2 linked regions of the Homo sapiens genome follow. The protein of the gene in region 2 binds, or shares a complex with, the protein of the main gene of each other region. Each region holds a gene or a part of one and is shown on either strand. Other genes may lie near its edges. The genes, in order: MCM5 and GINS1.

What was found.
Region 1: GINS1 (region 2) and MCM5 share a complex: the UniProt entries of both Homo sapiens proteins name them as parts of the CMG helicase complex.

What each region holds. Positions count from the first base shown.
Region 1 is NC_000022.11:35,396,167-35,403,319, reverse strand, and holds the start of MCM5 (DNA replication licensing factor MCM5), read right to left. Parts: upstream 3,181-7,153; 5' UTR 3,112-3,180; intron 2,890-3,111; 5' UTR 2,882-2,889; coding exon 2,715-2,881; intron 114-2,714; coding exon 1-113. UniProt on the Homo sapiens protein: Acts as a component of the MCM2-7 complex (MCM complex) which is the replicative helicase essential for 'once per cell cycle' DNA replication initiation and elongation in eukaryotic cells.
Region 2 is NC_000020.11:25,445,663-25,449,346, forward strand, and holds the end of GINS1 (DNA replication complex GINS protein PSF1), read left to right. Parts: intron 1-260; coding exon 261-329; 3' UTR 330-2,901; downstream 2,902-3,684. UniProt on the Homo sapiens protein: Required for correct functioning of the GINS complex, a complex that plays an essential role in the initiation of DNA replication, and progression of DNA replication forks.

The sequences.
Region 1 (7,153 bases), on a different chromosome or scaffold from region 2:
CGGCTGGCTGCTTGTACAAGTAGTCGGCCAGGTCCTCATCAAAGCTGGCCAGATCCTCCATCTCCACCTCAATCCAGTACTCCCCCAGGTTGTAATGCCGCTTGAGTTCATCCCTGGAGTGGGCACATAGCAGGGTGGGGCAGGAAGGGTGCAAAGAAGAGGAAACCAACACTGGCTGAGGTGTGCCTGCACCCCTGAATCTGCCCACACCACAGCCACCATGACCTCACCATTCCTCTTCCCAAACACACATCTAATTCCAGATCATTCCATTATTTAACCCTGCAGAGGCTACTCACTGCTGGCACAGGCATGCCCTAAAGAAAGCTCCATGGAAGGGGTCCACAAGACAGTCAAAGGATGTTTCAACACCCAGGCCAGCGTGCACAAAACAACAAACCAGTTCTGTCACTGAAGGACTCCGCAGAGCCTTTAACTTCTCTTGGAAAAGAACAATGCACACAGCTCAAACTTGGGGCCCAGTGAGGTGGCTCATGCCTGTAATCCCAACACTTTAGGAAGCTGAGGAGGGTGGATTACTTGAGGCCAGGAGTTCAACACCAGCCTGGGCCACATGGCAACACCCAGTCTCTACTAAAAATACGAAGATTAGCCGGGCATGGTAGCATACGCCTGTAGTCCCAGCTACTGAGGCATGAGAATGCCTGAACCCCAGAGGTGGAGGCTGCAGTGACCAGAGATCTCGCCAGGGCACTCCAGCCTGGGCGACAGACTGAGACTCTGTCTCAAAAAAAAAAACCAAAAAGGTACCAGCCTCACCAACATGGAGAAACCCCATCTCTACTAAAAATACAAAAAAAAAAACCTAGCCGGGTGTGGTGGCGGATGCCTGTAATCCTAGCTACTTGGGGGACTGAGGCAGGAGAATCACTTGAACCCGGCAGGCAGCAGTTGCAGTGAGCCAAGATCACGCCACTGTACTCAAACCTGGGTGACAGAGCGAGACTCCATCTCAAAAAAAAAAAAACAAAAAACAAAACAACAAAAAAACTGGAGGCACCAAGGCAGCAGAAAACACATCTGCCTTATCAACCTCTAGTCAGACTGTTTTTTTTTAAATAGAGCCTGGGTTTCACTATGTTGCCCAGCCAGGTCTTGAACTCCTGGGGTCAAATGATCCATTGGCATCAGCCTCCCAAAGCGTCGGAATTACAAGCATGAGCCACTGCGTCCAGCCCAGATGCTTAGCAGAGCATCCCATGTGACTGCTGTGGCAAGAACATATTTGGGGACCACTGACCAACGCACAGGCTGTTCCCCAGCCTCGCAGTATCACAGGCCTGAGCCCCGTCTCCCTTATGTCCAGGAGCCAGTAAAATGGCCAGACTGCTACTGAAAGCCACTTGCTGTGAGGACACCCCACACCTCTACACAAGCAATTGCTCCTACCTAGACAGAAAGCTTTCTACACCTGCAACTCTGACCTTAGCTCAAAGGTCCCCTCAAACTTCAGCCCCCCGGAAAACTTCCCTAAGTCCTTTCACCTTCCTCTGTGGAGGAAATGACCACCGTGGAAGTTATCTGTTGGTCTTCACGACTCACTCCTCTGACTTAGGAGCTTCTCTAGGACAAGAAGCACGTCTTTTCATCTTTGTAGCGCAGTGCCTGGCACACAGGTGGGCAATATCAGCTGCTGCATGAGTAAGTGAAAGCAGGAATGGCTTTACCCATTTCTGGCCTGGTGAGGCCCAGAGACACTGACACCTGGAAGTCACTCAGCTAATAATGGGCCAGTGCTGAACCTGCAACCTCATGTTCTCTGCATTTTAACATTTCAGGGATAGAGGCCGGGCCTATGAGAATTCTCATGATGTCACAGGTCGTACAATCACCTAGAAGCAGGAGCCAGGTCCAGCTTCAGTGCTGCAGCCCAGCACCCAGAACAGTATCTGGCAGGCAGCAGGTGCTCAATCAATGAAGGTGCAAGACTGGTATAAATAAATGAATGAGCGAAGTGAAGTGAATCCTAACTGCCATCTTCACCTTTTACACCTACAGGGAACTTGAGTTTGTAAGGTCTCAGACATGACATGGAAGGATGATAGGAAGCAGATGAACAGGAACAAGATCTGGATAAAGAACTAAACGGTCCAAGTGGCGCTAGCTGGTTGCTGGTGGCCCACTCAACAGGTGACTCACCCAGAAGTTAACTCCAGGTACAGATAAAATACACAAAGCAGGCCGGGCACGGTGGCTCACGCCTGTAATCCCAGCACTTTGGGAGACTGAGGCGGGTGGATCACTTGAGGTCAGGAGTTCGAGAGCAGCCTGGCGAACATGGCGAAACCCCATCTCTACTAAAATTACAAAAAATTATCCGGGCGTGGTGATGGCGGGGGTAGTCCCACCTACTCGGGAGGCTGAGGCACAAGAATCGCTTGAACCCGGGAAGCGGAGGTTGCAGTGAGCCGAGATCGTGCCACTGCACTCCAGCCTGGCGACAGAGCGAGACTCCGTCTCAAAATAATAAACAAATACGTTAATAATAAAATAAAATAAAATAAAGTAAAACAAAATACACAAAGCCTTATACCAAGGCGTGAGGCTGCCGGGATGAGCCCTGTGACCCAGGACCGGCTCTTTCCCCCGTCTGGGCCCATCTGTGCCCTGACTGTCCAGGACTCTAGCAGGCTGGTAGAGGCGTGTGAGCGGCCACACTGGAACTCGAGCCCCCGGCCCCGCAGGAGCCGCACCTGTATTTGAAGGTGAAGCCCGTGCGGTCGGTGCCCACTCGGTACTGCCGCAGGAACTCCTTGAAGCGCCTCTGCAGCTGCGATTTGCGGGCCTGCCCCTCGTCGGCCTGGGCGTCGCCCCCGAAGCTGTCGCTGTAGAAAATGCCAGGATCGTCGAATCCCGACATGACTGCGCCTGGGGTGGGAACAAACGGCCAGAACAGGCTGGGGGCAGCGCCTGGCACCTCCTCCCCTCCGACGCCTGGGTCCCTGCCCTGAGTCCGGAGCAGGGGGACCCCCGGCCGCGCTCCCGGACTCCAACCCCAGTTCCCGAGAAACTCCTGTCCCACTCCAACTACACCCGGAAATCCAGATGCCTGCTGGCTCCCAGTCCCAGTCCCACTCCCACTAGCCTCACCTCTGGTTTTCCGCACTTCACAAACCAGGGGAGACAAGAACCTCCACGCTCAGCCGCCGAGTTTCGCGGGAAAAACAAGAGGCGGTGTTCGGACGCCGCAGCCGCTGCGCTCCCATTGGTTCGCCGGAGCCTCGCGGCCAGCGATTGGACCGTTCTGAGCCCTCCAGCCCCGCCGCCCGGACTGTCTGCCGAAGATGATTGGCTGCAAAGTGCATGACCTCGCCTCCTTCCGGGCTCCATTTTGTGTGCGGAACAATTTGGCGCGAAACTTCTGGCTGGGAAGGAAGTGGCGGCGCAGGACGGGGCGGACGCAAAGATGGCGGAGGGGCGGGCGCGCGGAGGACGCCTTTAGGTGGTTTCTTTTTTATTTTCTTGGTTTTTTTTTTTTTTTCCTGACGCATGGTCTCGTTGTGTTGCCGGGGATGGAGTGCAGTGGCTGGATCACGGCTTACTGTAGCCTCAACCTCTTGGGCTCAAGCAATCCTTCCGCCTCAGCCTCCCTTGTAGCGGGGACCACAGGTGTACGTGATTTTCTTAAAATATTTCATAAAGACGGAGTCTCACCATCTTGCCCAGGTCTCGAAACTCTACTCTCAAGCGACCCGCCTGCCTTGACGTCCCAAAGCACTGGGATTACTGGCGTGAGCTACCCGGCCAGGCCTGCGTGCTTTTCTTAAGCCTTCTTTTAAAGTCCTATGAAAAAAAATGACCCTTTTCATAGCCATAGGGAGAAAAAACTAGAAGTTCAGAAATGATTGGGTCCAGGTGCCCATTTTGCATTGGGAGACTGTGCCCTGTGGAGTATTCGCTTCCCGGTCGTGGGGCCCGTTCTCTGGGCCTGAGGCTCTGAGGAGCCCCTGTCCTCCAGCTGGTGGCAGGACAGGGCGATTACCGCGCGGCTCACCCGCGTCCCCGACCCGGGTTCTCGCACCCTAACACACTGCTTTTATTTGTTTATTTATTTGTTGAGAGGGAGTCTCACTCTGTCCCCCAGGATGGAGTGCAGTGGCTCAATCTCGGCTCACTGCAACTTCTGCCTCCCCGGTTCAAGCGATTCTCCTGCCTCAGCCTCCCAACTAGCTGGGACTACAGGCAGGCGCCACCATGCTCAGCTAATTTTTGTATTTTTAGTGGAGACAGGGTTTCACCATGTTGCCCACACTGGTCTCGAACTTCTGGCCTCAAGTGATCCACTCGCTTCGGCCTCCCAAAGTGCTGGAATTACAGGCGTGAGCCACCATGCCCAGACCGGCCTCATTCTGTTTAACAGCTGCTTAATTTTCTGTAGTATGGTGACAAAGACTCTCCTTGACCAAACTCTAGCCAGGTTCCTCTGGGCTCCCTTCACTTCTAAGCCTCAACCTTGATCTATAGGCACTGTGGCTCATGCCTGTAATCCTAGCACTTCAGGAGACCAAGATGAGAGGATCCCTTGAGTCCAGGAGTTGAGGCCAGCCTGGGCAACATAGCAAGATCCCGCTTCTCTAGAAATTTTTTTATAATTTTTTTTGTTTTGAGACAGAGTCTCACTCTGTTGCCCAGGCTGGAGTGCAGTGTCACGATCTCGGCTCACTGCAACTTCCACCTCCTGGGTTCAAGCAATTCTCCTGCCTCAGCTTCCCAAGTAGCTGGAATTACAGGTGTGTGCCACCACGCCTGGCTAATTTTTTGTATTTTTAGTAGAGACAGGGTTTCACCATGTTGGCCAGCCTTGAACTCCTGACCTCAGGTGATCCACCCGCCTGAGCCTTCCAAGATGCTGGGATTACAGGCATGAGCCACTGCGCCCGGCTTGAAATTTTTTTTTAATTAGCTGGGCATGGTGGAGCACACCTGTTGTCCTAGCTACTCAAGAGGCCAAGGTGGGAGGATGGCCTGAGCCCAGGAGTTTGAGACTGCAGTGAGTTTTGATTGCACCACTGCACTTCAGCCTGAGCGACAGAGCGAGACTCATCTCTAAAAAGAAAAAAAAGACAGTCCAGGCGCCGTGGCTCACACCTGTAATCCCAGCATTTTGGGAGGCTGAGGCGGGAGTTCAAGACCAGCCTGGCCAACATGGTGAAACCCTGTGTCTACTAAAAATACAAAACTTAGCCGGGCGTGGTGGCAGGCGCTTGTAATCCCAGCTACTTGGAAGCCTGAGGCAGGAGAATCGCTTGAACCTGGGAGGCGGAGGTTGCAGTGAGCCGAGATCGTGCCACTACACTCCAGTCTGGGCGACAAGAGTGAAACTTAATCTCAAAAAAAAAAAAAAAGAAAAGAAAAAAAGACTTAAACAAACACTAACAGTTTCTAACAGCTGCTAACATCTCTAAAATGACTCTAGCCAGCCCCCGCTAAGGTGCCTGCCTGAGAAAACTCAAGGCTGCTGGTAAATGTTTACCGTTTATTCCAGGCAACAACCGAGGATGTGACCTCTGTCTCCCAGGCTCTGTGGGAGGCAAAAATTCTAACTTTGATCATTGCCAACTGGCAGACACAGCTAGCCTCACTGCATTTACACTGACTTAACCTTTTGTAATATTTCACTTCCCTGACTCTACTAATCACTTGCCCACCCCTTCCTCCCTCAATCTTCCTTTATTTTTTTTATTTATTTTTTTGAGACAGGGTCTCTGTTGCCAATGCTAGAGTGCGGTGGTGCAATCACAGCTCACTGCAGCCTTGACCTCCCAGGCTCGTGCAATCCTCCCACCTCAACCTCACCACCATGCCCGGCGAATTTATTTATTCATTTGTAGAGATGGGGTTTTACCATATTGCCCAGGCTGGTCAACCTCCCTTTAAAATACCTCTATACAAATTAAAGCTGAGTTCAGTTCATACTGAACTCTCTTCCCTGTTGCAATAATCATTACTGATTAAAATCTGTCCTTACCACTTTTTTTTTTTGAGACGGATTCTCGCTTTATCACCCAGGCTGGAGTGCAGTGGCATAATTTCAGCTCACTGCAACCTCCGTTTCCCAAGTTCAAGCAGTTCTCCTGCCTCAGCCTCCTGGTAGCTGGGATTACAGGCACGCGCCACCATGCCCGGTTAATTTTTGTATTTTTAGTAGAGACAGAGTTTCACCATGTTGGTCAGGCCAGTCTCAAACTCCTGACCTCATGATCTGCCCTCCTCGGCCTCCCAAAGTGCTGGGATTACAGGCATGAGCCACCGTGCCCGGTCGTCCTTACCACTTTAACTAGTGTCTGGCTTTGTTCGACAATTGATAGGAAAAAATTATTCAGCCATTCTCCTATTAGTAAAATTCAAGATAGTTTCTCTCTCTCCCCTCCCCTCTTCCTTCCTTTCTTTGTCAGTACAATGAATATCTATTCCCCTTTCACAAATGAGGAAACTGGGCCCAGGGCAGGAGAGTCCCAGCTGCTATTGGGTTTTTGTTTTGTTTTTTTGAGACAGAGTCTTGCTCTGTTGCTAAGGCTGGAGTGCATTGGTGCGATCTCGGCTCACTGCAACCTCAGCCTCCCGGATTCAAGTGATTCTCCTGCCTCAGCCCCCGGAGTAGCTGGGATTACAGGCATGCGCCACCACTTCCAGCTAATTTTGTGGTTTTAGTAGAGGCAGGTTTTCACTGTGTTGGCCGGGCTGGTCTCAAACTCCTGGCCTCAAGAAATCCGCCTGTCTCAGCCTCCCAAAAGTGTTGGGATTATAGTCGTGAGCCACCGTGCCCAGCTCCAGCTGCTATTTGAATGCCTATGCTTTGCATACGTGACCATACGTGCTCCTGGACCTGGGTGCGCGTTGGACTCTCCTAAGGTACTTTTCAAAAATACTGATTCTAGGCTGGGTGCGGTGGCTCGCGCCTGTAATCCCAGCACTTTGGGAGTCCAAGGCGGGCGGATCACGAGGTCAGGAGATCGAGACCATCCTGGCTAACACGGTGAAACCTGTGACCTCCGTCTCCACTAAAAATACAAAAAATTAGCCGGGCATGGTGGTGGGTGCCTATAGTCCCAGCTACTCAGGAGGCTGAGGCAGGAGAATAGCGTGAACCCGGGAGGCGGAGCTTCCAGTGAGTCAAGATCGCGCCACTGCA
Region 2 (3,684 bases):
AGTAGAGACGCGGTTTCTCCATGTTGGTTAGGCTGGTCTTGAACCCCCGACCTCAGGTGATCCGCCTACCTTGGTGTCCTAAAGTGCTGGGATTTCAGGCATGAGCCACCGTACCCAGCCCCTTAAGTTTAACTTTCAACTACTTACTTGTTGGAGTTTGAAAACTAATCAGTGCTACTTTTTAATGATACAAGAAATAATTTCAAATTCTTTCCCAATCATTTATTTTACTCTTTCTCCATCCCTTCTTGTCCCCTCAGCACTTTTTACCTCGATGGAAATGTGAGCAGCTGATCAGACAAGGAGTCCTGGAGCACATCCTGTCATGACCATGCGCCGAGGCACTTCCAGGCTTCACTCAACTCATGGACTCCTCTGTACTCACTCTCTCCACCACTCCCTTCACCTCCCTCTTTGATTTTAGAAGCTATAGACATTGTTTAAGATAACTAAGAATACTTGGCTAAGAAGTATAATTTGCTAACTATTAAGGACTTTCTTTTTTTAATGTTGTACACTATTCTTCCTACTCTTTTTTGGTTTTGGTTTTGTTTTGTAGAGACTGTCTCACTATGTTGCCCAAGCTGGTCTCAAACTCCTGGCCTCAAGCAGTCCTCCCACCTTAGCTTCTCAAAGTGTTGAGATCACAGGCGTGAGCCACTGCACCCGGCCCCTACTCCTTTTTCTAATAAGCTGTATCTGTAATCACAGCATTCCTACAGTTGTTACAGTGTGTTTTTTAAATGAAAGTAAACATGGTTACATTTGAATCTCTTAAATAAGCAGTCACTTGGCTGGACAGGAAGAAGGTAGATCCTGTGTGTCTTGTTTTCTGGTCATGTGTATTGTACAAGCTAGAGAGCTGAATTTCTGAGATACACATTTTCAAATCACATGCAAGTGAAGATGATGGTCTGTAGAAATTTTCAGTATATATAATGTTTAATGACATACTAATTTATCATCTGGCTATTTGGGAAGGAAGGACACACATGGATTTTGCACATTTCCACCATGGTGGCTGGTGTGGCTTGTGGCTATGGGGTGATCACCAGTATCACCACTTTGGAAGGGGACAGTGAAATTGGGGCTAGAGAAGGAACTTTGTACAGTTTTCCCTGAGATTCAGATTGACTGAAAAGTCACATGAAGAGTTGATTGTCTTTTAATGGTATGTTTTAAACAGCTGACATTTTAAATTTTGATGAAATCCAGTTTATTCGTTTGTTCTTTTATGCTTTGGGTGTTGCATCCGAGAAATCTTTTCCCATCCCAAGATCACAATTTTTTTTCCTTTTTACTTCTAGAAGTGTTATAATTTTAAGCTTTATACTTTGGTCTATGACCCGTTTTTTTTTTTGTTTTGTTTTGTTTTTTCGTTTGTTTCTTTGTTTTGAGATGGAGTCTTGTTCTGTCACCCAGGCTGGGGTGCAGTGGCGTGATCTTGGCTCACTGCAATCTCTATCCCCTGGGTTCAAGTGATTCTCTTGTCTCAGCCTCCCAAGTAGCTGGGATTACAGGCACAGGCCGCCACGCCTGGCTAATTTTTGTATTTTTAGTAGAGACAGAGTTTTACCATGTTGGCCAGGCTGGTTTCAAACTCCTGACCTCAAGTGACCCACCTTGGCCTCCCAAAGTTTTGGGATTACAAGTGTGGGCCACCGCGGCCAGCCTATGATCCATTTTGAATGAATTTTTTATATGGTGCAAGGTGTCAATCCACCTTCACTTTTTCTTGGGAATATAGATATCCAGCTGTTTCACTACCATTTTTTGAAAGGACTGCCCTTTGCTCTATCACCTTTGCATTTTTGTTAAAAAGTAGTTGTCAATGTATATGTGGGTTTATTTCAGGACTCTGTTTTGTTCCATTGACCTGTTTTTCTCTCCTGAATGCCAATACCATATTTGTATGTAGTGTATGTAATTTTCTAATAATTCTTGAAACAGATAGTATTAATGTGTCATATTTTTGCTGTTGTTTGTATTTTTTGTAGAGATGGGGTTTCACCGTGTTGGCCAGGCTGTGTTGAACTCCTGAGCTAAAGCAATACACTTGCCTCGTCCTCCCCATGTGCTGGGATTACAGGCGTGAGCCTTGGTGCTGGCCCAGTGTACCACATTTCTTTTTGAGATTTGTTTTGGCTATGTTAAGTCCTTTGCTTTTGATGTGAAATTTGGGAACAGGCAGGGTGTGGTGGCTTATGCCTGTAATCCTAGAACTTTGGGAGGCCTAGATGGGTGGATCACTTGAGCTCAGGAGTTCCAGACCAGCCCGGGCCTATGGCAAAACTCCGTCTCTACAAAAAATAGAAAAAATTAGCCAGGTGTGGTGGTGCATGCCTGTAGTCACAGTTACACGGCAGGCTGAGGTGGGAGGATCACTTGAACCCCAGAGGTCAAGACTGCAGTGAGCTGAGATCACACCACTGTACTCCAGCCTGGGTGACAAAGTGAGACTCTATCTCAAAAAGAAATTAGGATCAATTTGTCAATTTCTACAACAACAACAACAAAAACCCCTGTTGGGCACCTTGATTGAGATTGCATTGAATTTATATAAAACTGTTGGGAGAATTGACATCTTAATAATATTGAGTCTTCTGGCCTATAAACAAGGTCTGTCTTCCTAGGTATTAATGTTTTGTCTTCTATTTCTCTTAATAATCTTTTGTAGTTTTCAGTGTACAGGTCTACCATGTCAGCATTTCATAGTTTTGATGCTAAATGGTATTTTAAAATTTCAAATTCTAACCACTTGTTGCTAGTAAATAGAAATACAATTGATGTTGAACTTGTATCCTTCAGCCTTGCTAAACTGTGAGTTCTCATGGTGTTTTTGTAAATTACATCAACAGTCATGTGTTCTATGAATAAAGAGTTTTACTCCTTCCTTTCTAATCTGAATGCCTTTTATTTCTTTTTCTTGCCTGATGGCATTGGTTAGAACTTCCAGTAGAGTACTAAATATATGTGGTCAAAGACACCCCTATCTTGTTCCTGATCTAAGAAGGAAAACAGTCTTTCACTATTATGATGTTTGTTAGCTCTTAAGTTGTTTGTAGATGCCCTTTATTGGGGTAGGAAGTTCCTTCCTATTCCTAGTGATATGGTTTGGCTGTGTCCCTACCCAAATCTCAACTTGAACTGTAATAATTCCCATGTGTCAAGGGCAGGGCCAGGTGAAATAATTGAATCAAGGGGGTAGTTTTCCCCATACTTTTCTGGTGTTAGTCAATAAGTCTCACGAGATCTGATGGTTTTATAAATGGGAGTTCCCCTGGACATGCTCTTTTGCCTGCCACCATGTAAGACGTGACTTTGGTCCCTATCCATTTGCCTTATGCTGTGATTGTGAGGCCTCCCCAGCCATGTGGAACTGTCAATTAAATCTCTTTCCTTTATAAATTACCCACTCTCCAGTATGTCTTTATTAGCAGCATAAGACGACTAATACACCTAGTTTACTGAGAATTTTTTTAAAAGTCAGAAATGGATGCTGGATTTTGTCATATCTTTTTTCTGCATCTGTTGAGATGGTTTTGTCTTTTAGTTTGTTAGTCTGGTGAATTACAGTGGCTGATTGATCGATTGAGTTTTCAATGTTAAACCTACCCTGGATTCCTGGCATAAACCACACCTGGTCATGATATATTCTCCTTTTTGTAAGATTTTATTTGAAAT